Linked DNA regions of Homo sapiens: regions 2, 3, 4 and 5 are each linked to region 1. Evidence: fine-mapped expression QTL. A gene starts in region 1. Each other region holds a variant in brackets. All regions are shown on one strand. Distances are from middle to middle.

Evidence for each region. PIP is the estimated chance that this variant, and not a neighbour inherited with it, causes the effect.
Region 2: its variant is fine-mapped to the expression of KCNJ2 in monocytes after R848 (Quach 2016, PIP 0.95).
Region 3: its variant is fine-mapped to the expression of KCNJ2 in blood mononuclear cells (TOPMed, PIP above 0.99).
Region 4: its variant is fine-mapped to the expression of KCNJ2 in whole blood (TOPMed, PIP above 0.99).
Region 5: its variant is fine-mapped to the expression of KCNJ2 in whole blood (INTERVAL, PIP above 0.99).

The regions. Positions count from the first base shown.
Region 1 is chr17:70,166,936-70,172,043 of GRCh38, reverse strand. It overlaps KCNJ2 (potassium inwardly rectifying channel subfamily J member 2), which reads right to left and starts at 2,512. Exons shown (of 2, transcript NM_000891.3): 1 at 2,343-2,512. KCNJ2-AS1 (KCNJ2 antisense RNA 1) reads left to right here and starts at 2,642. Exons shown (of 1, transcript NR_036534.1): 1 at 2,642-5,083. RefSeq lists a silencer at 2,457-2,916.
Region 2 is chr17:70,299,957-70,305,064 of GRCh38, reverse strand. No RefSeq gene overlaps it. Among named protein-coding and RNA genes, the nearest start is that of KCNJ2, 130 kb to the right of the region's middle. The variant G/A (reference allele first, on the strand shown) is at 2,510.
Region 3 is chr17:70,524,584-70,529,691 of GRCh38, reverse strand. No RefSeq gene overlaps it. Among named protein-coding and RNA genes, the nearest start is that of KCNJ2, 360 kb to the right of the region's middle. The variant A/G (reference allele first, on the strand shown) is at 2,271.
Region 4 is chr17:70,096,348-70,101,455 of GRCh38, reverse strand. It overlaps KCNJ16 (potassium inwardly rectifying channel subfamily J member 16), which reads right to left. Exons shown (of 4, transcript NM_170741.4): 2 at 690-798. Among named protein-coding and RNA genes, the nearest start is that of KCNJ16, 24 kb to the right of the region's middle. The variant A/G (reference allele first, on the strand shown) is at 1,954.
Region 5 is chr17:70,202,586-70,207,693 of GRCh38, reverse strand. No RefSeq gene overlaps it. Among named protein-coding and RNA genes, the nearest start is that of KCNJ2, 36 kb to the right of the region's middle. The variant G/A (reference allele first, on the strand shown) is at 2,157.

The sequences.
Region 1 (5,108 bases):
GTGAGCAGCTGAGAAAAGCTATCATTAAAAAAACAGGGCTTACATGCAACTTTATTTCAAGCATATATTCAAAATAATGTTTGAGATGCAATCAATGAGGAGTAGATGAGAACACTAAGTGATACAAATCCAGAGAATTGAAATTTGATTTGATGAACAATGTGTAAATCTCCCTTCCAGCCAAAATATTTAAGGGTCTAGATGTAAATTTCATGGACACAAATAATCATTTTTATCCAGGCCATAACCCATGATGTAGAAAGTATTTTTGGGAAATTGAGAGGTTACATGTGGTGCTGTTCATGTTAAGACTATTTATAGGCTGAGCCAAAATTAAGCATAAGCAATGGAAAAAAATAGTTCAGCGTTTTAAACTTAGGTAGATGTTAAAGGAGAAAGAGCTATGGATAAATGTAAGGTCAAGGAGATCACATGGTACAAATGGGGGATCTAAATTGCTTTGACTATATAGGTAATACTTCCAATATGGCTTATAAATAACTAAAAAAAAAAATCAAATGAGAGTAAATGTGTCCTGTAATATGGTCATGGTGTGCAATAAATAAGAAAGTTTCTAAGGATAGGAAATAAAGATAGCAAAAGAAAACGTACTGGGCTGAGAGAGAGGTCTGCTAATGAGTGTTTAGAGCAGCTATTCCCCAGCTGACGCCATATAGAACAGCCTGAGTGTGCTCTGGGCACATGTTGCTATGTGAGCACAACTGCTAGGAAAGCAGCCTCTTAGAAGCTCAATAAACATGAGGGAGGAGGAGGGGGAAGTGGGGAGGGGAGGGGGATACCCATCTATCTACGTGTGAGCCCCCTGTCTAACATTTATACTCAACGACACTTGGCTTGTAGCACTGCTCAGCATTTGCATACGCTGAAAAACAGACATGTTTGGTAAATAAAAATATACACTTAAAAAAATCTGAAACACTTAATCTGTGCAGGTAGCTGTTTTCAATCTTTCAGGCTACGCAAAAGTCATACAAGGACGCTACAGCTAACCAGAGATTCTACAACTCAGGAATCCAAAGGATGTAGAAAGACTGTGTTCTTTTATTTTTTTTAAAAGCAAAATTCACATGAGTTTAGATCAAATATTTCTTATGGAGACCAAGAACATTAAAAAATAAAGTGTCATTAAAATATGAGAGAGGAGGAAGCTAAGTAAAATGGCCTTGACCTTATCCTCACCCTTTCCACCATGCTTCAATTAACATCTCTTACCCCTTCTGAGCACCAGGATTTTTCCAGATAATGGCAAATAGAAATGAAACATTTGGAAGTGAGCAGGAAAACGCTAACAAGTGTACAGATAATGTACAGCAGACACACAACATTGGTTGGCGAGAGGAAATCTGGCAGCCTATTGATTATTAATGTGAAAAGAAAACAAATGATAAAACGCAATATGGTTTCTTTGCATATCCGAGGTTTTCAAATAACACCTTATTTCCTAACAGGTAAAATCTGAATTTATGAAAATCGTCGGAATTCACAGCCTTTTATCCTAGTGATCATCCTATGATATCCTTACCCAGACACAGACATTAAACTGCCCATTCCCTATCCCTATTTTTTTTCCAATTGTCATGATGAATCCACGCTATGATGCAATCTTTTTGCAGAATCAAGTCGTTTTGACTATTTTGCTTTCCTAAAACCACACTGTCTTCAAGCCAGGTATTAATACCATTATTACTGAAAATAACAAATTGGTTAGGGGAGAGTGATATGTAATGTGAAAGTTTTGCGATCCTCAGGCTCAAATCCAACTCGGGCTCCCGCTCTTCTTTCAGGAAGGCAACTTTGAGACACTCACTCTGTTTGAAACTCACAGCTATACTTGAAGCAATGACGAAAAAAAAAAAAAGCCAAGGATCAAGAATAGTGCTGAGTCCCAAGCTTTGCCAAGGTTTAAGACCAGGGCTCAAGACGCACCCCCAAACCCGCAACCACGTTTTCTTTCTTTTTTTCCCCACTTAGAGTGAGAACCGAACACAGACGCTCTCGCCCTTGCCTCCAAACCCAGTATCTCGCTACAGCTGGTGCATTGGAAGTTATGAGCACAAACAGATGCTGCAGAGAAATCTGTTTCTATTGCTCAACTGTTCCAAGCATGTCTCAGTATTTTTAGCTCTGGGGATGTTCTGGTGCGCACACAAACTATATAGGCATGATCTGGGACTCCGGAGTGTGGGTGAGCGCTACAGCAGTGTGACAGCTGGGCACCTCTGGAGCAGCGGGGCAGGGTAGGGTAGGGGACGGCGGCCAGAGTCCATTCCCCAGGACACACCGGCAGCGAGCGAAAAGGAAGAAAACACAGCAGCCCTTACCTGTTGCTGGCGCAGGAGCATGGGGACATGGAGTGGAAGTGGGGGGTACAGAGGCATGTAAGATCCAGTGGTTTGTAAAAAGCGAGTGAGCCAAAGCAAACCAGAATTCCCAAGACCCAGCCCGCCGGCGCCGGGAAGGCTGCGCGCTGGCCAGGGCTCCAGTGCGCTCTGCAATATCCTGGGCTCTTTTGAGGCGGTCCGTGCGACACCGGCTCTCCTGGCCCCGCCCCCGGCCGCTGCCGGCCAATCGCAGCGCGCCTGGCCGCGCGGCCGGCCCCGGGAACCGCGGCGGGGAGGGGAGGATGCTGCGAGGCGTTGCCAGCGGAGGGAACCTGCCGCCGCCTCGTCCCCCTCCACCCTCGGAGCCCGGCCGGGGAGTCGGGCCCGGGCCGGGGAGGAGGAAGTTGCGGCCCAGCTGGGACAGCAGCAGGTGGGAAGCTCCGCGCCCGGCTGTTGCGGCTGCCTGATTGCAGCCTGGCCTTGGGCAAAGCTTCCTACTCCGTCTGGAGCCCCACACACTTCCCGGTTCCCCCGCTCTTGGGCCGCTTGCCCTGCGTGCTCCTCGAGGGGCCTGCGAGGTGCCAGCGCCGGGTAGAGACCTTTGCCGCAGGGGCAGGATTGTTCGTCGGTCCCGGCGCGTCTCCCTCTCCACTCCCTCTCTGCCGGAGCCCCTCGGCCCTTCGAAGCCCCCCGCGGAGGCTGCAGCGCCCGGAGAAGCCACTGAGTCAATGGGGCGAGGGACTGGGGCGGGCGCGCAGAGCCCCCAGGATTGAGACGCGCGCAAGTGCGGCCACTGCAGCGCCGCTTGGCTGTTTGTTCTCCCGACTGTTCGCGAATTACTTACAAGGCGCCTAGGCTTCTCCGAAGGGTGGACGGCTCGTTCCCTCTCGCCTTGTCCGCCCTCAGTCTCTCCACCACCGCCCGGCACGCTTTGCTGATCTAAAATCAGAACAATTAGAGAGTAATGATTTTTTTTGGAATAGCAACTCCTACAGACACTCAGATCTGCCCTCGCTTCAGCGCCTCCCAGCCCTCCTTCCCAGCAGCCAGGCGAGAGCGCGCAGACCCCTAAAAAGCAACTTCAGTGTTAACCGGGTCTGGATCCTGGAACTTTATAAACTAATCCGTGTGTGTGTGTGTGTGTGTGTGTGTAAACCGAAGAGTAAGTGCCTATTATTTCTGAGTACTTCGGTGTCCTAACGAAGCTTTGCTCCTAAAGGACAGGATATATTTTAGGAGTCTTTCTTTCCACTGAGTTTTTTAAATGTTTATTTTCTCGAGCGATCAAATGTGTCTTTTGTGCAGTTTATTTAAACCTCGTAAGGCCTCCTTGAGTCGCTGAACTAATTCAGCAAACTAGCTGGTATTGTGGACGGCGCAGTCGGGGTGGATTTTTGTGTGTAGGAGAGGTGAAACTGACAATTCAAGGAAAGGTTCTGTGCGAGTCCCCACCTCCCATCCTCATATCCACACGTGGCCCCTAGGAGGTGCTGGTGAAATATGCTTGCTTAGGTTTCGCAGATCCGCACTTACTCCTGCCTTAACAAGTGTGCCTTTTTTCTTAGCACTGAGCAAGGTACTTAAATTAAAAGGGTGTGCAAGAGATGATGCACTCGGTGTGGCTGCTCTGATAGCCAAATGGCGATGTGGTCCCAGTTAATGTGTTGAGATTATACTGTTCACCAAGCCCTGTTACGAACTCTGTTGCCATGCACGTGGGAATAATGCCTGCCCCAAGGGAGGTCTTCTTTAACATCTATTTAGTCATGTGTTATTTATAAACAGCTTGAATTAATACTGTAAAATAGACGGATGTCTAAGAATCTAGGCTGTAGCCTAAAGCTAAATGAACCTGAGGGTAGACAAGTTCACTCTGTATTAACCAAAGGATAATGAATGAGTTCACCGCTCAGTTCAATAAGCTTCTTCTGAAATATGCTTCCTCCTGGACTTCTAAGAAACAGGCCAAAAGTTTAATTATCCCTTAAAACATGTTAAGCCTAAATAGAAAAAGGAAATTAATCATTTATAGATTTTCTCTTCTTTATTATGATTCAGTTGGTGCATCTGTAGATGGCTAAGAATTTTCCAAACCACGTGAATTCAGAGAGGCAACACTTTTGTTGTTGTTGTTTTTCCAGGTAATGAGCTCGCTTTGAAAACCAGTCACTCGGAAAGGGATGGCATTTTTATGCAACTTGGATTGAAATGGTTTTGCTTTAGTATTCTACTCTAATTAGAAAGAATACACCACAGGCCGAAATAGTTTCATATGATAGGAAAATCTTTAAAGAAAGGAACACAGAGTTATTAGATTATGGTTGGCTGTATAAATTTAGCTGGGCAGCGGGAGGAAGGTCATAATAAATGTATCCTGCTCTCTCTCATCAATTATCAGCAGCACATCCCCCAACATTCTCTCCTCCCAAAGACTGAAGGATGTGCAGCAAAGCTTAGATCTTGAAGGAGAAGGTTCGGGAAAAATTAATGATTTTAATTAGAACTTTCCAATCTAAGTAGAATCATTACCTTAATTAGCTAAATAAGGAAGTATGAAGGATGAAATTTTGCAAATGAAATTTTGTAAATGTATGGTAGCGTAGAATACCCCCATTGCTTCATTTTAAAAAAAGAAAATATAAATGCATTTTAATTAATAAATGACTTTTCATCATGTCCCTATTAGGAAAATTCTGTGTGCCAATGCTTTCAGTGTTTGATTTAATACATCTTTTGAAGTGATGCGTGATGCAGATTTCTGTATTC
Region 2 (5,108 bases), 130 kb before region 1:
CCTTCAGAATGTCACACTCTCCATCTGGTCTCTCTAGCAGGGTAGCCAAAATTATTTACATGGTTGATCAAGACTCAAAAAAAAAGTAGCGTCTGCCAAAAGTCTTATGGCCTAGAAATATAAATACAGGAAGAAATACATGTAGGAATTTAATATATGCTAAATTCTATGATCTGAATTATTGAGTAAACTGATATACTTTAGTAAATGATGTTGAAGCCATTAATTTATCATTAGGAAAAAGAAATCTAGCTGCATCAAAGATTATAATGTAATAATTTAAAACGTAACCATAAAAAATACTTTTTTTCCTCACAATGTGATAGAAAGTTTAAACTTGAAATTTAAAAAAAAGACATAAATGAGAACTCTAACTAGTTTGACAGAACTTATAATATTCAAGCTGTAAAATGGATACCAAAACCTGATACTCCTCCTCCACTTAGGATGGCCAAATCTGTAAGAAAATGTTGCTTCCACCCTAAGAAGGAGAAAAACAAAGGCCAGATAATTTATAAATCATAACCTTTTTTTGAGTTTATTAGAGACCAGAAGTTGCACAGCAACCAGGTGAATTGAATTCCAAAGTGTAGCAGCTAACAGCCCCTCTGAGGAGAGATGGAACAAAAGAGCAGTTGAGCACAGTATGAGAGGGAGAAGGAGCCCCCATAATAGCAGGTAAGAAGAAAACAGCCAGATCTTTAGTGAGCTCAAAAAGCCAACACGATAGTTAGAATAGCTAGGAGCCCCAGGCTTGCAGGGAGTCCACACTCCCGATTTCCTTTTCATGAGACTCTTCTACTGTGCTCTTGGGAAAGATTAGGGGCAGGGCAGGAGACCTAAGAGAGGAGAGCCCTCCTCAGTGGCACTCAGCATGAAACCTCACCCTTGAAATCCCACTTCCTTGAAACCTCTCCTACAAAGTGAATGTCTTGTCATTGTGGTAGGGTAGGCAATCTTCCTGTCCCCAAGGCTCAGAGAAAAACCCACCACCTCTGAAAGAGGAGCAAAACAAGAGCCATCTGCTATAGAAGGACATATGCTACCAAGGATAGAAATCCCTGCTGCCCACAGTCCTAATCAAAGGTAAAAGACAGGAAGAAAGAAAAAAAAAAAAAAACAGTACGGAGATAAAGCAGTCAACAAAATGAGATTTAGATATTATTAGGCTGATGTATGTTAACATATCTAATGGGAAACGTGAACAACATGTATGAACAGATGGGAAAGTATTACAAATAAAATAAAATGGAAATGCTAAGGGGAAAATAAACAGCCTAACATCAGAAATAAAGACGTGTTCCATGAGTTTATCAGCAGATGTGATGATGATCAAGGAGTCAAAGAACTTGAAGATTGGTCACATATATTATCCAAACAGAAAAAAATAGAGAGCTATAGGAAAGATTAAGGAGTTCAACATATACACAATATCAGTCCCAATAAAAGAAAAGATATTTGGAGAGAGAAAGACAATGAATTTCCTAATTTTAAGGGAAAAAAATTAAACCACAGATTGATAAATTTCAGAGAACTCCAAGCGGTTTTTAAAAAAAGATGCAGACACTTCATAGCCAGAGCGCGCAAAACTAAGTATAAAGAGGGAATCTTATGACAAAACAAGACTAAAGAATCATTACATATAGAAAAGCAAAGATAAGAATAGTAACAGATTTCTTTCAGAAACTGTATAAGCCAGTTTAAAGATGGAACAACATCTTTAAAATTGGGGGGAAATTTCAATCCATAATAGTTAATCACAGTGAAAATATCTTCCAAAACTGGAGGGTCTGTAAACCTTTTAATTTTTTCAGATACACAAAGACTGTAAGATTATATTGGTAGATTCCTGTATTATAAAAAGGTCAATGAATGTTACACTAGCAGAAGATTATAGAATCAGATGAAAATTTTGACCTATTCAAAAGGAAGAATATCAGAAATAATTTTTTAAAAGAGGATTTTTTAAAACCAAAAGCATGGTATTGTTTGTTTACTATTTATGTACTCCTTAAAGAAAAATTGGATTTCTAAATAAAAACTACAATATGTTGTGGAGCTTATCCCATTTTTAGTAGTTATGATGCCAATAGCATGAGGGATGGGAGGGAGAAAATGAAAATCTTTTAAGGTTTTTTGTTTTATGATAAATGGGATGATATTAGAAAATAAATAACAAGTTAAAGATCTATATTTTAAATAATACAGCAACTGGAAAATACATAAAAAGAAGAAATAAATAAGCCAATAATGAAAATTAAGAAAATTATAAAAATTCTTAATGCAAAATAATATGGAAAAAATGGAACAAAAAGACATAAGACAACAAATCAGTAGCAAGATAGTAGATTCAAATATTATATCAACAATTACATTAAATACTCAATATATATACACTCCAATTAGAAAACAGAGATTGTCAGATGGGAAAAACAAAGACTTATTATGCTGTCAATAAGACAGTCACATAAATTGTTTAAAAGTAAACAGATGAAAAAAGATCATGCAA[G/A]TTCTAAGCAAAGGAAAGCTAAAGTAGCTCTATGAGATCAGAAAAGCAGACTTCAAACTGTTACAAAATTTAAAAGGTTCAGTACATATCAAATGTACCATTGTGGTGTGAGACATTGACAGTAGGAGAGACTGTTGTATGTGTGGGAACAAAGGGTACATGGGAACTGTCTGTACTTTCTGTTCAATTTCGCTGTGAACCTAAAGCTGATTTAAAAAATAAAGTTTATTAAAAATAATCATGAAGAAGGAACCATGCATAATGATAAATGGGTGAAAAAATGAGTAAGAGATAATATTCCTAAATATGTGGGTACTTAATCCCAGAACTTCAAAATATATAAAGCAAACACAGGTAAAACTAAAAAAGGAGAAAGAGACAAATCCACAACTATAGTTGGAGACTTCACCACACCTCTCTCAGAAATTGATAGAGCAAGAATATAATAAATTAATAAGGAAAGAGAAGATCTAAACCACGCTATCAACCATCTTGACCTAATTGAGGTTTATAGAAAAGCACTGCACCCAGCAATAGTACAATGGACATTATTATTAAGAGCATACTATTTACCAAGGCAAAACATATTCTGTGCCTCAAAACAAAGCTTTAAAATGTACAAGAATTAAGACTATACAAAATATGTTCTCTGAACTACATGGGAATCAAGCTAGAAATAAATGAGAAAGATATTTGGAAAATACTAACATTTTGTATATTAAACTACCAAACTGTAATGATACATGGGTCAAAGAAGAAATCACAAGAAAATTTAGGAAACAGTTAGTTGAATGAAAATTGAACAAAATATCAACATTTGTGGGATGCAATCAAAGTGATACTTAGAAGGGTATTTACAGCAATAAATGCTTCTACTAAAACATAAAGATTCAAGTCAATGATCTAGGCTTACCTCTTAGAAACTGAAAAAAGAAGAGCAAATTAAACACAAAGTAAGCAGAAAAAAGAATACTAACATTAATAGAAAAAAAAATCAAAGAAAGAGAAAACACACAAGGAATAAAAAACAATAAAACCAAAAGCTGTTTGAAAAAAATCAAATGATACACCTCTATCCATACTGATCAAGAAGTATAATAATTTACAAATATGAGTGCTGAAAGACTGCATATTGCTACAGATCTTATTTTAAAATGTCGATAAGGTGACATTACAAAAAATGTTTGTGTCAAGAAATCTGATAACATATGAAATGAATGAAGCATTTGAATTATGCTACTATCAAATCTCACTCAAGAAGAAATTGTCCCCATTAAATAAATTAAATTTAAAATTTAAAATTTTCCCACACAGAAAGCTCTAGGCCCAGATGGTTACACTGGTAAATTTTAGCAAAACATTTAAGGAAATGCAATAGTAATCAGACCAATCATATAGACACACACACACACAAAAAAAAAAACAGGAAGAAACACTCTCCAACTTATTTTATGAGGCCAGCATTCCCCTGTTAAGAAAACCAATCAATGACATTATGAAAACAAAACATAAGCCAATGTTTTCCCTGAAGATAGAAATATTTTCATATATAATTTTAGCAAATTGAATCCACCAATAAATATAAAAAGATAACAGAACATACTGGCATTGATCTCAGGAATGCAAAGTTGGTTTAATATTAATGAGAGGAATCAGTGCACTAGACAGTGTAAGCAAAGTAAAAAGAAAAACTACATCGATACGTGCAAAATAATACTTAACAAAATTCAATGTCTACTTATTAAAAAACTTTCAGCAGACTAGAAACAGACTGAAATTCCTGAACTTAATTAAGGACATCTATGAAAAACCTACAAGGAACCTCATACTTAATGTGAATGACTGAATACAATCCTCCTACAATGGGGAAAAAGCCAGGGATGTTTACTCTGCCCATTTTTATTTAACATTGTACTGGAGGTTCTGTCACTGCAATAAAACAAAGAGGATAAGTAAAGGCAATAGATTGGAAAAGAAGAAGTAAACCACTTTGTTCACAGAACACATTATCATTTACATAGGAAAACAACAAAGAATTTACAAGAGAGCTACCAGGACTAAGAAGTGAGGTTAACAATGTTTAAGGATGAAAGATAATATGCTACATTTCTATATATCACCATAAACACTTAAAATGGAACCCAGAACAGCATCAACAATTACAATAGCCTCAAACTCAGGAAATAATTAAAAATAAGTTTGACAAGAGATGTGCAAGATTTAAATGCCAAAACTACAAAACATCGGTGCGAAGAGCTAATTGTTAAAAAGGTACATATATGAAAAAATAATCACATATTCATTGATCAGAAAGAAGTCTCTGTATGATTAAGATGCCATTTCTCCCCATTTCAATCTACAGATTGAACCTAATACTTTGAAAAGCCCTTCCAGGCTTCTTGTGACAATTGACAAGCTGATTCAAAAAAATCATGTGGAAATACAAACGACCTAGAATAAGCAAAACCATTTTGAAAAAAACATTTTAAAAAAAGTTGGAGGAAACCCAATGCCTATTTCAAGGCTTAGTATAAAGTTGCATAATTAGGACTTGGTGGTAGTAACACTGTAATAGACATACATGTTAATGGAACAGAAT
Region 3 (5,108 bases), 360 kb before region 1:
CCACCTCAGCTTCAATGAGTAGCTGGAACTACAGGCATGTGCCACCACTCTGGCTAATTTTTATATTTGTAGTAGAGATGAAGTTTTGCCGTGTTGCTCAGGCTGATCTCAAACTCCTGAGCTCAAGGGATCTGCGAACCTCAGACTCCCAAAGTGCTGGGATTATAAGCATAAGCCATAACACCTGGCTTACTATTTTATTAAACAGAAAATACTGAGCAGAAAGGGGACATTTCATTATGAAAGATCCTGATTTTGTTTATTGCCTGATATATTGTGCTGCAATAAAGTGAGATACATATTAATTGGCCCCAAATAGAATATTTTAAAGATTTAATATTTGGTTTCTGTAAGTTTTTTAAAAATATTTTCATCCATATCAGTTCAAACTTCTTGCTAACATCATTTTGCCTCCAGTAGTCCCTTTTTCCCCTCGCAATTTAGAACAAATCTACAAGTATTTGAGTAGCTACAATAGCAGAGTTACTAATTATTTTTCTAAAATTGAAGTGGAAATACAATTTTATAAGGAAATTTTTATTTGACTAAATAAAATTGACAAAAATGTGTGTAAAATAAAAAATAGACATGGTGAATTTTTGAAAGATATCTGTATATGGAACTTTGGAGGTGGTCTGAATTACAGAAGCTAGATGTCTTAATAGCTGAAACGTTCTTCTTAAAACTTCTTGGATTGCACATTCCTACCACTACATACTTCAAGCACAACAGAATATATAAGAATGTAAATTCTTATATTTACATACTATATACACTTATTATGTTATGCATATTATATCTCATATACACAAAAATTTAATGAAAGAAATAAAGAAAAATTGAAATGAACCTCTTTCCTATTTTCTTCTCATACCCCTACAGCTCATGTTAGAAACCTACAGGAATGTACACAGCCAGTTGGAAGATTGCCGTTTGTAAAACTTGGAGGTAGAGGCAAGCAGTTCTTGTTTTATATTGTTTTTTTGAGCGAATCAATTCACTAAAAGCAGATCAAAGACTCAGCATTGTTTCTGGAAATTAGAAAGAGCTTAACAAACTTTAAGGTAGTAGTTGTGGTTATTATTTTTGCTTAAGAAAACTTATGAGACTTTTTAATTGTGATATTTTTCCTGGGTTTCAGTTCTACTTGAGGAAAAAAAGTGACTTTAGGAGAAGCCAAAAATTCATCATTCTTGAGTAATGCATTTATTTTAAATTTTGACAGACTTTCCCTACCTACGGTATCTATCTCAGTCACACTGACATTGTTCTGATCACTCTGCCTTCCATCAACATTTGTGATTTTCTTGTTAGTTCCGTTCATATTTTAATATAGGTTTTGTATTTGCGTGTTTTTCCATGAGATAGTTCTGAAGGACAGAAAAGCATTTCTTTATTCTATACACTCCCAGTCCTGTTTGTAACATAAGCTAAAATATAAATGTTTTCTTAGTCAGGTTTTAAATTATAACAAGCATTTCTTAGGATGATGAGATACTATTGCTTTAGTGAGAGGCACACTTGACATTTATGAGAAGAAGAGAAAAAGGAAAGAAAAGGTATTCTCCTCTTTTCTCCATCTTCCATGCCTTCTAGGTTCTCAGCAAGCACTATCAATAAACCGTTATTTATTTTTAAAAGCTATAGCTCTTTATTAAAAAATTTCTGTAATAGTTTGCAATTTATTAAGTGTTTTCCTTTTGTGGTAAGAGTCCCATCAGTTCACTTAATGGTAGCAGAATGTTTTAGTGGAAAGAGAGATTGCTAGCTTCTAATACTTGAGTCTAAGAGATTTTTAGTCCTTTGTGTTTTGAAACTAGCATTTCCTTCTTTAATCTTCCACCCCCTCCTACAAACACACCCACTCAGAGCAGTCAGGTGTAAAATTAGAAGGAACAGAAATAATAAAAGAATGGAAAATATGAGATAACATTTCTAAAAATAATTCTTGTTACAGAAGCAGACCATTTTGAAACCAGTAAGAGGGCGTTAAGCCCTCTCCAGACTGAATTTCTCAATTGTCCTTCATGGGTGCTGCCATTAGTGGTAGACTGGGACCTTGCATTTCTCAATAACCTTCCGGTGTCAATCACCTGTGATTTTTTAAGATTGCCTAACATGTCAAATTTCTTTTTATATCCAAGTTAAGTACATGTTCCCACTGTACTTCCTTCATTGCTTCTTTCTTCCTCTTACTGCCACTCTTTACCCCTGCCTGATATGCAGCGTCAGCCTTTAGTGAAGTTGTGAAATTTGTAAATTATCTTTAG[A/G]CTTCTTCATTTTTTAGCACTTCCCTACAGCAAGTTGATGAGATGTCCTATAGGAAAATTATTAAGCTCGTTTTCTGTATTTCCTAATAATTACAACTGAATAAGTTGTAGAGAAGTGTTTTTTGTTGTTGTTGTTTTTGTTTTTTGTTTTTTTTTCTTTTTGAGACAGGGTTTCATTCTATTGCCCAGGCTGGAGTGCAGTGGCATAAATATAGCTCATTGCAGTCTCAACTTCCAAAACTCAAGTGATCCTCCTAAGTAGCTGGGACTACCGGCACACACCACCACGCCCAGCTTATTTTTTATATTTTGTAGAGACAAGATCTTGCCATGTTGCCCAGGCTTATCTCGAACTCCTGGACTCAACCAGTCCTCCCATCTTGACCTCCCAAAGGGCTATAATAGGTTTGAGCCACTGTGTCCAGGAGAGAGAAATTACTGGAAAAGAGAATTTAGATTAGAAAGAGAAAACCCTGTTTAATAACAGACACCATCCAAGAATAAGAAGCCTGACCCAGGTAAAGTGAGAACACAAAAGAGTTTCCAAGTGACTACTTAAAAGGGTAGCTGGGGAGGGTTTATGTAACACATGTGAGCTGGAACCCAGGAAGTTAAAAGACATATACATTGCACTGTACTTATTAGGATAGTAATGCATTCTCACTGAAAAAAGTAAAATAAGTCAAGAGTTGCAGGAAAAAAGGGAAAAAATAAAAACTAAAACATACATTTTCTTTTTTCTGTCCCCTGAAACTACAACTCATTTAGTGTGTATCAACTCACCCTTTTTCTTTTCTTTTTTTTTTTTTTTTTTTGAGATGGAGTCTCACTCTGTCACCCAGGCTGGAGTGCAGTGGCGGGATCTCGGTTCACTGCAACCTCCACCTCCCGGGTTCAAACGATTATTGTGCCTCAGCATCCAGAGCAGTTGGGACTACAGGAGCGTACCACCATGCCCAGTTAATTTTTTGTATTTTTAGCAGAGATGGGGTTTCACCATGTTGGCCAGGCCGGTCTTGAACTCCTGACCTGAGGTGATCCTCTTGCATTGGCCTCTCAAAGTGCGGGAATACAGGCGTGAGCCACCATGCCTCGCCCATCTCACCCTTTTTCTACGTTTATATAAATATATCATATTACAACAGCTAGAGGAATCATTGTCAAGCACAGTTTACTAGTCTTTTGTTCAAAACTTCCCTATGGCTTCCCGCTGCATGCAGAATACAAGGCAAAGTCCAGGGAGGAGTTGGCCTCCCTACTACAAATGACCTCATCCCCTGCCTCCCAACCTCACTTCCTCTGCATTAGCTGCACTATTCCTCAAGGTCTGGGACACACAAAACTCTCTCCAGGCATCAGGCCTCCTGCAAGTGTTGTTTCACTCTGCCTGGATTACTCTTTACTCCAGTATTCATCTTTATCTTTATGTAACCCCTTCATCTTTATGTCTTTGCTCAGATATCATTTTATCATTGATTTTTTGGTTTTCCTACTCTTACTGTTCTACCTATTTTTATAAAGGGATTCAAAACCTGTGTCACTGCTGCAACCATCTTCCCAGAAACTTACTGCTTGCTTGCTTGCTTTTAATTCAACCAATAGATAGGACTCATGCTAATATAATTCATGTTCTGAAATCTTTTCTTCCAGCAAACCCTTTTACAATTTCACTTGGCCTTAAGATTTTATCATGGAGTCATTCACTTGGCAATATCTTCCTTTTCTCTCCTTTTTATTGACGTTCTCGGCTTGCCATTTTTCCTGACCAGAGCCCCTCTGATGGTGATGAAGGGCAAGTGAACCCCCAAATTGAGACTCGGCATGGGAGGGATTTTGCCTCTGCCCAGGAAGGAATTCAAGGGCAATCCAGTGGTGTTAGACAGCAACTTTTTTTTTTTTTTTTTTTTTTTTTGAGACGGAGTTTCGCTCTTGTTGTCCAGGCTGGAGTGCAATGGTATGATCGTGACTCACTGCAACCTCCGCCTCCTGGGTTCAGGTGATGATTCTCTTGCCTCAGCCTCCTAAGTAGTTGGGATTACAGGCATGTGCCACCATGCCTGGCTAAATTTTTTTGTATTTTTTTAGTAAAGATGGGGTTTCTCCATGTTGGTCAGGCTCGTCTCAAACTCCCGACCTCAGGTGATCCGCCTGCCTCGGCCTTCCAAAGTGCGGTGATTACAAGCATGAGCCACCACCGCACCCAGCCTAGACAGCAACTTTTATTGAAGTAGCAGTGCGCAGCAGCAGCAGAGGTCCTGCTCCTAGCAGAGCAGGCCTACACCATAGCCCATGTGCCCAGGGAAGCAGCTCAAGGGCAGTTCTGCAGTCAAATTTATGCTCACTTTTAATTACATGCAAATTAAGGGGCAGGTTGTTCAGACTTTTCTAGGAAAAAGCTTGTATTTTTCAGGTCATTGGCTTGGAAAGGGGTGGTAAACTCTGGGTGTTGCCATGACAATGGAAAACTGAGATGGCACTGGTGGATGTGTCTCCTGGAGAGATGCTTTCACCTCTTCCTTGTTTCAGCTATTCTTCAATCTGGTCAAGAGTCGAGTCCCCACCTCCTACCTCAACTGTGTGTTTTGTGCTAGTCTTGCTGATTATGGATTATGTCTTTCTGTATTTTCCTTCCTATCAAGTATATCTGTTTCTGTGGAAAACTTTTCCCTAATGACAGATCCATTGAGGAAAAAAAAAAATCTCAAAAACTCACCTATTATCTTAATAATCCAGAGGAATGCATTTCAAATGGTGGGATTCAGACATCAAAAGCAGGCATTTCTCTTGCTTCCTATAACGTATTTTTTTGTACCTACCAGCCAAGGAATAGAGAAAGAC
Region 4 (5,108 bases), 71 kb after region 1:
GATTGATATGTTAATGTAGCTAGAGACAGATAGATATAATTTTTATATACATATAGTTTTCATATAGCTTTTGCAGTACTATTGAGAAAGTACCTAAATTGTTCTGAACGGAATCATTTTAAATGCACAGAATATCCTAGATCTGGGTTTCTCAACCTCAATATTTAGGGCCAGAAAATTCTTTGTTGTGGGAAGATGACCTGTGGTTATGGCATTTAGTTTAACAGCATCCCTAAACTCTTCCCACTAGATGCCAGTATGACCCCAAACCCCAGTAGAGACATCCAAAAATGTGACCAGACATTGCCAGATGTCCCTTGGTGAGCAAAGTCACTCCAGGTTGAAAATCATTCTCTAGACTCAAATAACCAAGTAGACAAGTTTTATTCTTAGTTAGCAGAATGTATAATAGACTGTGGATTCACAAAATATATAAATAGCATTTCTTTCCTAAAATACAGTGAAGGTGAATGATTTAAGGAGGCAGTAAACGTGTAAAATGTGAACAAAAGGAAGCAATGTTTGTAACACCGAATTTGCTCTGTAGCAAAGTTTATGAAAATATAAACGTATAAGTAGAAAGCTGGACTTCTGGAAAAATGCGTAGGGATAAAGCACATTTTCATGGAGGAAGGAGTGCAAGTATTGGTTTTTCGGAGAATCATGTTAAAATTGGTTTAATTTCTTACCTTTAAAGTGAGAGGCAACACAGCAGTTAAGAATTGAGATAAAGTGCCAGTCTGCCAGTTAGAATCCTGTGTCTCACTATTTTAACACTCTGTGCCTCAATCCCCCATTCTGTAAAAGGAAGATAATAGAAATATATTAGCTCTTAGCAGAAGTAAATGAATTCATATTTGTAAAGCACTTAAAACAGTACCAGGCAAAAATAAATGTCATCTAAGTGTTTGTTAAGTCTGATTGGGAGAATATAAAGAAAGGTGTACATAGTTTGGTGAGTGAGAGTAATGTTTTTCGGGTGGTGAAAAGACAAACAGAAAATAAGAAGTACTGGAGTAAATTCCAGTACTGAAGACACGGGCAGAGAAGTATCAGGTAAGATGGAAGATCCACAAATGAAAGGCGTTGATCTTGGAGAAAAGCTGTACCACTATTCTTCTGATAGTCCGTATAATAATCAAACTAATCCAGTAATTTGAAATAGAGAAAACAATTGTCTGACTTATATGTAATACCACGTAGGCATTAGGAAATGAATACAATTTTTAAGTTTTACCGATTTTTCTTATCCAACTGAAAATTTTAAGTTGTTCTGTACAGCCTCAGCCCCTGCTGAAATCCTGCCTTCAGATAGACCCAAACAAACTTCACAGGTGCCATTTTTGCCGGCCTGAGGGCTTCCTGTTATTCTAACTGCCTGGTTACCATAGGATATAGAGGAAGTGTCTGAAGTTCTCACTGCTAAACGGACTTTCCTCCTGTAGATCTCTCACACTACTTATGATTCTAAAGTTATTTGAATCCCTCTGATGTATTTTCCTTTCTTTGACCAAACCGTGCTGAAGTGAAATTGATTATCCTAATAGATTTCAAAATCTGAAATCACAAATAAATCAGTGATGGGTTGGCTAACATGTAGTTCCTCTCAAATTAGTGATCATCATATCATTTTAAAACTTAACAGTGAGGCTTAATAAGGATTTTGGTTTGGGTCACTTTTTTGTGTGAATTTGAGCGAATTATTTTTTTCTTCTCCTTGTATCTACTCCCAAACACACATAGCACCAGGCAAAGACCCTCTGAGGATTGCCAAAATGACTGAGTGAAGAAATGCCATGAGAAAGATTCAACCCACAATATGAATCATGAGAAAGGCATTAACACCCAAGCATTTATTGCCCCAGCTCCTCCACAACACCCCTCAAGATGGCTGTCCGTCTCTACTTGACTGTTTTCGTGGACTAAGACCTCATTCACCCCTAAATGCATTCT[A/G]TTCCTATTTTATGATGACTAGACCTTACCCATGAGGAAGTCCTTCCTTAAACTCAGATAAAAATGTGTCTCCCTATAGCTTTCACAAGATCTTCCTGTCCTCATGCTGTCCCCTGAAGCTCTGCAAAACAAGTCTCGTACTACTTCCAGGAGCCTGTTCTTCACATAAAGATAAACATTTTGTAGTTGCTTCTTTACCTTCTAACCCAGTCTTCATTTCTTGCAGTGAAAAATCTCCATTATATTATTTTCCTTGATATCTATAGTGATTGTTGAATCTGTCACTTTTGACAGAGAAAAGGGTGGGGACAAAAGTGAAAATCATGGGTCAGAAGTACAACTGGCATCAATCAATACTGCTGTGATATATGGTCAACTTATTCATAGGAAGCAGAGTGCTGGTGCATTTTAACTGCCTCTCTGGAGGAAATCAAAGGACTGATTTGTAGAGTTTTTCATTTCTGTGGTGTAAATACTCCACGCATGGCTGATGTCAGGTCACTGATATGAGGCTTCAGAATGTGGATTTGATAAGAGGTGTAAACAGTTAGCTCTTGTGAGCTAGTGGGAGCTGGCTCAGGCACTTAGAATTTGCTCAACACCTGGTTGTTCTTTGAATGTCTTTAAAAAATGTTATATATTTTAATTCATAATTATTGAGGTGCCGTTTGACCAGCCCCATATCAGTCCAGATTCTGTTCAAAATTCTACTTCAAAGGTTCCATTCCACTCAAAATTCAACTTCAAAGCTACTATGAGTGGAGGAAATACATAAAGTCATAGAAAAAGCTTCTAGCTTCTAATATTTGAGTCAGAAAAAAATTAATCTTCGATGACAGTGCTAGAAATAAAATTGGGGAAAGCCCGTATATCAGTGTACATTATAATTTAATAATATCTATATGCACACACACACGTAATACAATTATTATATGCCACTAGGCCATAAAGGTTTTTTTTTTTTTTAATCAAAGGGAAAAGAAAGAAGATTTCAACTGCTGTCTTGTTAAGAGGCATATGGCAAAAATGATTTATCTTAAATTTTTAAATTGTTTTCCTATAACTCAGCATTTAAGTCCTTATGATAAATTAATAAAATGTTATGAATATTCAAGTTAGAACTGTACTCATGAATAAAATTATTTTTATGTTTAGCCTTTTCCACACTTGATTGACTCCTAAATTCTTCAAAGCACGAATATGTTTGCTTTTGTTCTCCAGTGAATCCATTCTGCAGTAGTTACTTGTTGAGTCACATTTCCCCAAGGGTGCAATTTACACCCTTACTCTATTCATACTGAACCAAACTCGTTGAGACAAACTGTGTTCACACTGAATGAGAGTTACTAGGAAAATTTTTTTTAAATTATTACTTGGCTGCATCCTGGGATCTAAAATGGGGAGAAGTATGAGGTAGAGCTGGAGTGGTAAGCAGCATCTGGTAATTCATGTTAAAGAATTTGTATTATTCTAGGAAAGCATTAAAGAGCTTTGATCAGGAGACTAACACAATCTGATTAGCATAAAGATAAAACACTGAAGATCTGTATTTAAGATTCTGGCTCTAGTGTTGAGAACAGATTGGTCAGACAAGTGAGGAGGAGGTCATAACCTAGGAAACAGATTCAAGAGGGACTTGGAAGTCAGAATCAACAATAATTAGAAATCCATAATGAAGGAAAGAGAAGAAAATGGAGGTGAAGGAGCAGAGTAGAAGGATGGGAAAGAGTCAAGGTTCTTTGCAAGGAAAGAGTGGATACAGATGCAATCAGGTCTATGGATGGTAGACAAGAAGTTTGTGATTTTATTTTCCCTGTTAAATAGGGGTAGTGGGTAAAGGAGACAAGAGTAGAGATTTGAAGAGAACAGAAAATATTTGAAATAGTCACTGTAGAAAAATTGAAAACTATGCTATATGGGGCTGCGATGAGGGCCTGTTCTTAGTCACATTTCCTTGAGAATCTAATAGAATATGTATGTTTTTAAAAAGCATTCCTGGTGCTCCTGATGGAGCTCTTATTTCTCCATCCTCCTGCTCCTGACCTCCTCCTCTAATTTCTACTGAAACTCACCAAACAATATAAACACTTTTTGATTTAAAATTTTTAATAAGGTAACTCATTCCATTCTTGGTTCCTAGTTAGACCCCTAAATGGCCTTTCTAACAAAAACAGTGACATTCTCACAAAATATTTGCTCCAAAAATGTTTGCTAGAAACTTCCCAGGACAAATCCTGACAAGAGTGGGGAGACGGGGGCGCATGGGTTGTGCCATTGACATGTCCTTTGTGTGGATCCCCGTAATGCAGTGAACGAACAAACCTCCCAGTGAGGTCATGTCTCGTTTGGGGTTGAACGGCTAACTCTGTATCTGTGATCACATTAACAAAAGTGCACATAAAATGCCCAGGAATTTTTCCTTTGTGTGATTATGAAATAAAACTTACACAATATCGTGTCTGCAAAATGAGCATTTCACCATGGAGATTTCTTTGATTGTAATAGGGTTCAAAAGAGAATAGAGAAAATTTAATATGTTAGGACATGTTACCTCTTCAGTTGGCTGTGTCACGTACCTTTCTGCACTTCTGAAGTATCATATTTTAAATGTAGGTTGGTCTACACTCTAAACAATAAAGTTTATATCCAAAAACCCTGACCAAGTTACTAGCTGTAACTTGCTTTACCAGTAGAAGCTGTTGAGAACACTGAGGCAGAAACTCTAATATCCATTCACGCTCGCTCTGAGATGCTTGATTCTCAATAAAGGAGAAGGTTGTTATCACCTGATTATGAAGAGAATGACTTAATTCTTCACCCCACTTAATGTACATATTGTCACATCAATAGTACAAAAGATTGTTAATTTAGAAATATAGGCACCTATTATGATGTAATAATAATGATAGTTATTATTTATTGAATAAGCATTACATATTGGAACTTTGGTAATTGTCTTACAGAAATTATCCTTTAATTCTCAAACAACTTTAGAAGGTAGGTGCTAATGTTACTATAAAAATTTTTAAATAAATTAAAAATTAAATAAGTTCATAATACTTTTCCATGCTTACAAGTTGAATAAAAGGTATTGGCAGAATTTCAATGGAAACAATCTTATATGAGAGACCACATATTTCTCAGTGAATAAGGGC
Region 5 (5,108 bases), 36 kb before region 1:
AAAATACATACAGTTTTAATGAAGAGCATAGAATTATTCATGACCCCTTTTTCCAGAGATTAGCACTGTCAACATTTTGCTATATTTTTAGAAGAATCTCACACAAACACACACTCACACATAATATATTGTATCTGATATTATATTTTAATAATTTTAATTATAGAACTAACTCAGATCTGTTTTCTCTTTTTGCTCATATGAAGAATTGTGAGGACATTTGAATTGTGTTTATGTACCAGACTACAAAGTACAGAGTCTAAGACTGGTGAAATCATATCCTAAATATAGTTGTCTTGTGAGAGGGCTGGAATAAATAACTGCATTGTAGCTCTGCCCTATAACTCTTCTTGGAAGCTCTGTGTTTAAAGAGTAAAAAAGGCCAAGAGTGCTAGATGAACAGATGATACTAGCTACCTAACGACAAACAGTTACTTGGAACATGAGGTTCTGTCTACACAATCATGTTTTGCAAAGTGAAAATTGTGTATGACTTCCTACAATAATCTAAATATGTAGATGCAACTAATTTCTTACTGTATTAACTAGCGGAAAAACTTAAAACCTTTCAGGATTTTAGTCATTGGGGCTTGAGATTTCCAGAGAACATAAAAAAGAAAAATCAAGCCATGCCTTTGATGCAAATTCTATAGCAATAATGCAAACATAATATTCCTGGGTTGGACAGAATCCATGGAAAACAAAAAGAGAGGAACAGATTGCTATAATTAAGGGTGCTAATATTCTGGTCATTTTAATTCACAGGATCTGGATCTGGTTTGGTTTGGATAAGAAGGTGAAAAGTAGTAATATTGCTTTAAATCTTAATACTTCACTGCTGGAAGATGATACTTCCTCTTTCTTTAATGCAAACTTCTTTACAGGCAAAATATGACACGTTCATTTTTTATTGCAATAAATAAACCCTTATAGGACCAGCCACAGTGGCTCACTCCTGAATCCAAGCACTTTGGGAGGCCAAGGTAGGTGGATCGCTTGAGCCCAGGAGTTTGAGACCAGCCTGAGCAACATGGCGAAATCTCGTGTCCATGAAAATACAAAACATGAGCCAGGCATGGTAGTGTGTGCCTGTAGTCCTAGCTACCATGGAGGCTGAGTTGGGAGGATCACTTGAGCCTGGGAGGTTAAGGCTGCAGTGAGTCATGATCGTGCCACTGTACTCCAGCCTGGGCAACAGAGTGAGATCCTGTCTCAAAAACAAAACAACAACAAAAACAAACCCTTATGCTCACAGTTCAAAGAGTCTCGTTTGCTACCAAATTGGAAACTGTGGTAAGCCCATGACTTCTGTAGGTTTTGGAATACCATAGTTTTAAAATGATATGTATAATCTGAGGGAAAAAGTTGATATACCTATAAATATTTGTTTATAAAAATAGATATTATACTTCATTTAACATTTGAGAAATAAGTCACATGAGGCCAGGCGCAGTGGCTCAAGCCTGTAATGCCAGCACTTTGGGAGGCCAAGGCGGGCAGATCACTTGAGGTTAGGAGTTTGAGACCAGCCTGGCCAACATGGTGAAACCCTGTCTCTATCAAAAATACAAAAATTAGCCGGGAATGGTGGTGCATGCCTGTAATCCCAGCTACCTAGGAGGCTGAGGCAGGAGAATCGCTTGAACCTGGGAGGCAGAGATTGCAGTGAGCCAAGATCGTGCCACTGCACTCCATCCTGGGTGACACAGTGACATTCCATCTCAAACAAAACAAAACAAAGAAATAAGTCACATAAGTCACATTGTTGAGCCCAGAATGCCAGACATATTCTGAGACGTGTGACTAGAACAAAGCAGGAGATGGCAGGCCCCTGAGGTACCCCCAGTTACCCTTGGGTGGGTCCTCCATGTTTTTCCTAATGCCTCTTTCCAGTTAACCTCTCTTCATTAAATTACATCAAAAGCACAGGTTTTTCCCACATGAGATTATGTAGGGGAAGTTTAAATTAGAAACTTTTAAATTTGTGCAACTGGATTAGAAATTTCACAATACGAGTCTTACCTCTAAATACTTCTTGTTTCTGGTAAGGCTAGAACTTGTCTTTCTTGCCACATTTTGGCACTTCCAGTATTCAATAGAACCAGGAAGTGTAACTGAATATGAAAACAGGGTAGAACAGAAAGAGAAAGAAACAT[G/A]GAACATAATTTCTGATCGTTGATGTAACTTCGCCCAGGGGCATGGGCAGATGTTTGAGTAAATTCTGACATTCTGTGATCTCGGGAACTCCATATCTGCCTTAGAATATGAGTATGAAAATACTGTGATATGTCTAATAAAGAATTTGACTCTGGGGAAGGTAGGCTCATACTCAATTTAAAGACAGTCCTTTTGCTAAAAAGTAAAGCATTCAATTATATGGATACTGCTAGAAATACATGCAAGCATCTTTATATTTGTTTCTCATAAATAAACTAATAATATGTAGGCGAATGTTTGATAATGTATGTCTGACCTAAAAACACCTTTTTGACTGGTTTGGAGCTTTTCAGTTGCTACAATAGATACTCTGAATGACCTGAAAGAGTTTGGTCCATGTTACAATTTCTTCCCCCTTTCCACAATATATGGCTTTCCCAGGAAAAAATTTCTCGTAAGGATCCACTGTTTTTTATTTGTTGTTGTAAATTTTGGCTGGAAGAATCAGACAATGGCATACCACGGCTGGGGAGAATTCATCCAAAACCTCCCTGCTTAGGGACCCAAGAAGGCTATTAAAGAAAGGCTTAGAAATTTCAGCAACATAGCTCTGGGGCAGTGCACCTTTCCAATGACATTTTCACTAATGTGTTGCCATCTTCCATTTTCCCAGGATATAGTTTCCTTCATGTCTGCATGAGGTTAGGAAAAAAGACAAGGTGCTACCAAAAAAAAAAAAAAAAAAAGAGTTTATGTTTCTATAGCATCTGTTTATGACAGTGTATATAAATAAGAAGAGTTTCCACCCCAGTACAGGACAAGGAAAAATACATCTTTTTAGGAGTTGGCTTTCTGCAAGTGCCACTAAATGAAAGACCGTGGGGGTGGAGCCGAATATAAATGCAATGTCAGAACAAAAAAGAACCACCTACAAAAATCTTTCCTTAAAAAGCATCCATTCCTAAAGAAGATGCATGGCATGTAGGCTCACACACAGATTTACTACCTACCCAACCCAAAGTGGCCTCTGACAATGGCTTCTTCGAGAGAGAATTTTAAAACTTGAGGGTTTTCTTTTGTTGTTGTTAAAAAAAAAAAAAAAAGCAAATTACATGACTCTTAGATATTTTTTGCCAGTCTAAATATTTAATAGGAGTTGGCATGGCAGGGCATGTCATACTACTCCTAAGGTGATGCATTTTTGCAGAACAATTTATTTGAGAATCAACGTTCAGCAAGACAAGATTAATTCCTAAGACCCTCAGCTGTTAAGAAGGGCATCAATCATTCTGCATGTTTATTTATATTAACATCTTGAAATAGATATTGTTTTTGTTTTGCACACATATATAAATATTTAAAAATATGACTACACATATGCATAGGCATATGTGAGTATAGTAATATTTTTGAATGCATGGGTGTGCGAATTGGATGGGATGCTTTTCCATTTACAGGCTCCATGGCAATGGATGCAGGAGTATACCATCCCTGGCTCCCTGGCAATAAATATTAGAAATACCTTCCATGGTTGTGGCTTCCAAAAACATCTTCACATATCCCCAAACACTTCCTGGAGAATGGTAACGTCCTGGTTGAGAACTGTTCCATGAACCACTGACAAGCAAGTTGCAGACTGTTTCATTTTGAAGTACAGGTATCTTGAAGCTGGCTTCACTGCTTACAGCATTGTCTCTGTGTCCAGGGGAGGTTTGCAGAGAATTTCTCCATCAGAGAAAAAAAAGTTCAAGTTCGAATTATGGTAAAACTATAAAAAAACAAACTGGAACCTCAAACTTCAACCTAGATAGATGACCCTTCCTTTTTCGGTATTATGTTTTGACGTTTAATGAATTATTTCAAACATTTTAGAAATGTTAGATTTTACTTTCTAAATTTTGTAGATTTCAAATTTCTTTAATGTGGTTTAAAAAATACTCTTCCATTGTATTCTGGGAAAGACAGACACAGAAAATATTAATAAATTAGGGTTGTCTAAAATGGGAGAAATTAGAACCCCTACAATGTAGCAAGCATTGTATTAGATGCTTTGTATAAATTTTTTCTTTGTATCCACATACCAGCCCTGCGTGGCGGATGCTATTATCACCATTTTACACATGAGAAAACTAAGCCAAACGAAGTTTAGGAAACGCTATAAAGTATTAGTAAGCTCTATGTCACTTTTAGAATGCATGGGTTTAAAAGTTAAAGTGTTTCTAACTTTGACACCAATAAAAATATTTATTTTGACACTAATTAAAATGTAAATACATATTCTCCTATCACATTCTCATGGCATCCAAAGATAGCCCCTTCACTGAAATTAGATTTGCTTCGGTTATTTTTAATGATTGCTCAAAAAAGTGTGAAAGAGAAATTATATCTGTTGACTATTCTAGGGCTTTTCAGGAGACTTAGACTATTGCTGTATGTCCTGTGAGTTAAAGATAGAACACAATGTACTATTCTGGCCCAGATGTAGATACACCCAGAATATCACATGGACTCTAGATGTTTGGTAGAAAAACCAAAAAAGGAACAGACTGCATCTATATGTGGCAAGAGTGTAAACACGGTAAAAAGGAAGGGTAAATGATGGACAGCCACTTGCTTGTCACTGCCTGCTCTCCCTCCTCCTTCCCTCCTTTTTTCTTCCCTTCTGTCAATCATTCAAGGAATATTTACTGAGCACCTAGTTAATATCAGGCTTTGTGGTAGTGTCAGTTTGCCCTCTCCCACAAAAGGTTTCCTACTCAGATCATTTTCTCAAATAATCTTTGTCTTCTCTCTGCTCTGGGAGCATGACCTTAGTTTTTCTGATCTTCTCTCTCTGGTCTATCACAAGTTCTGTGCTCCATAAGTACTTTATTGTTAGTTTTATTTTCATTAGTCTGATTTTGAGAACTGCAAAGAGAATCGCTGACTTTCTGCTTATCCTCCGCTACCTC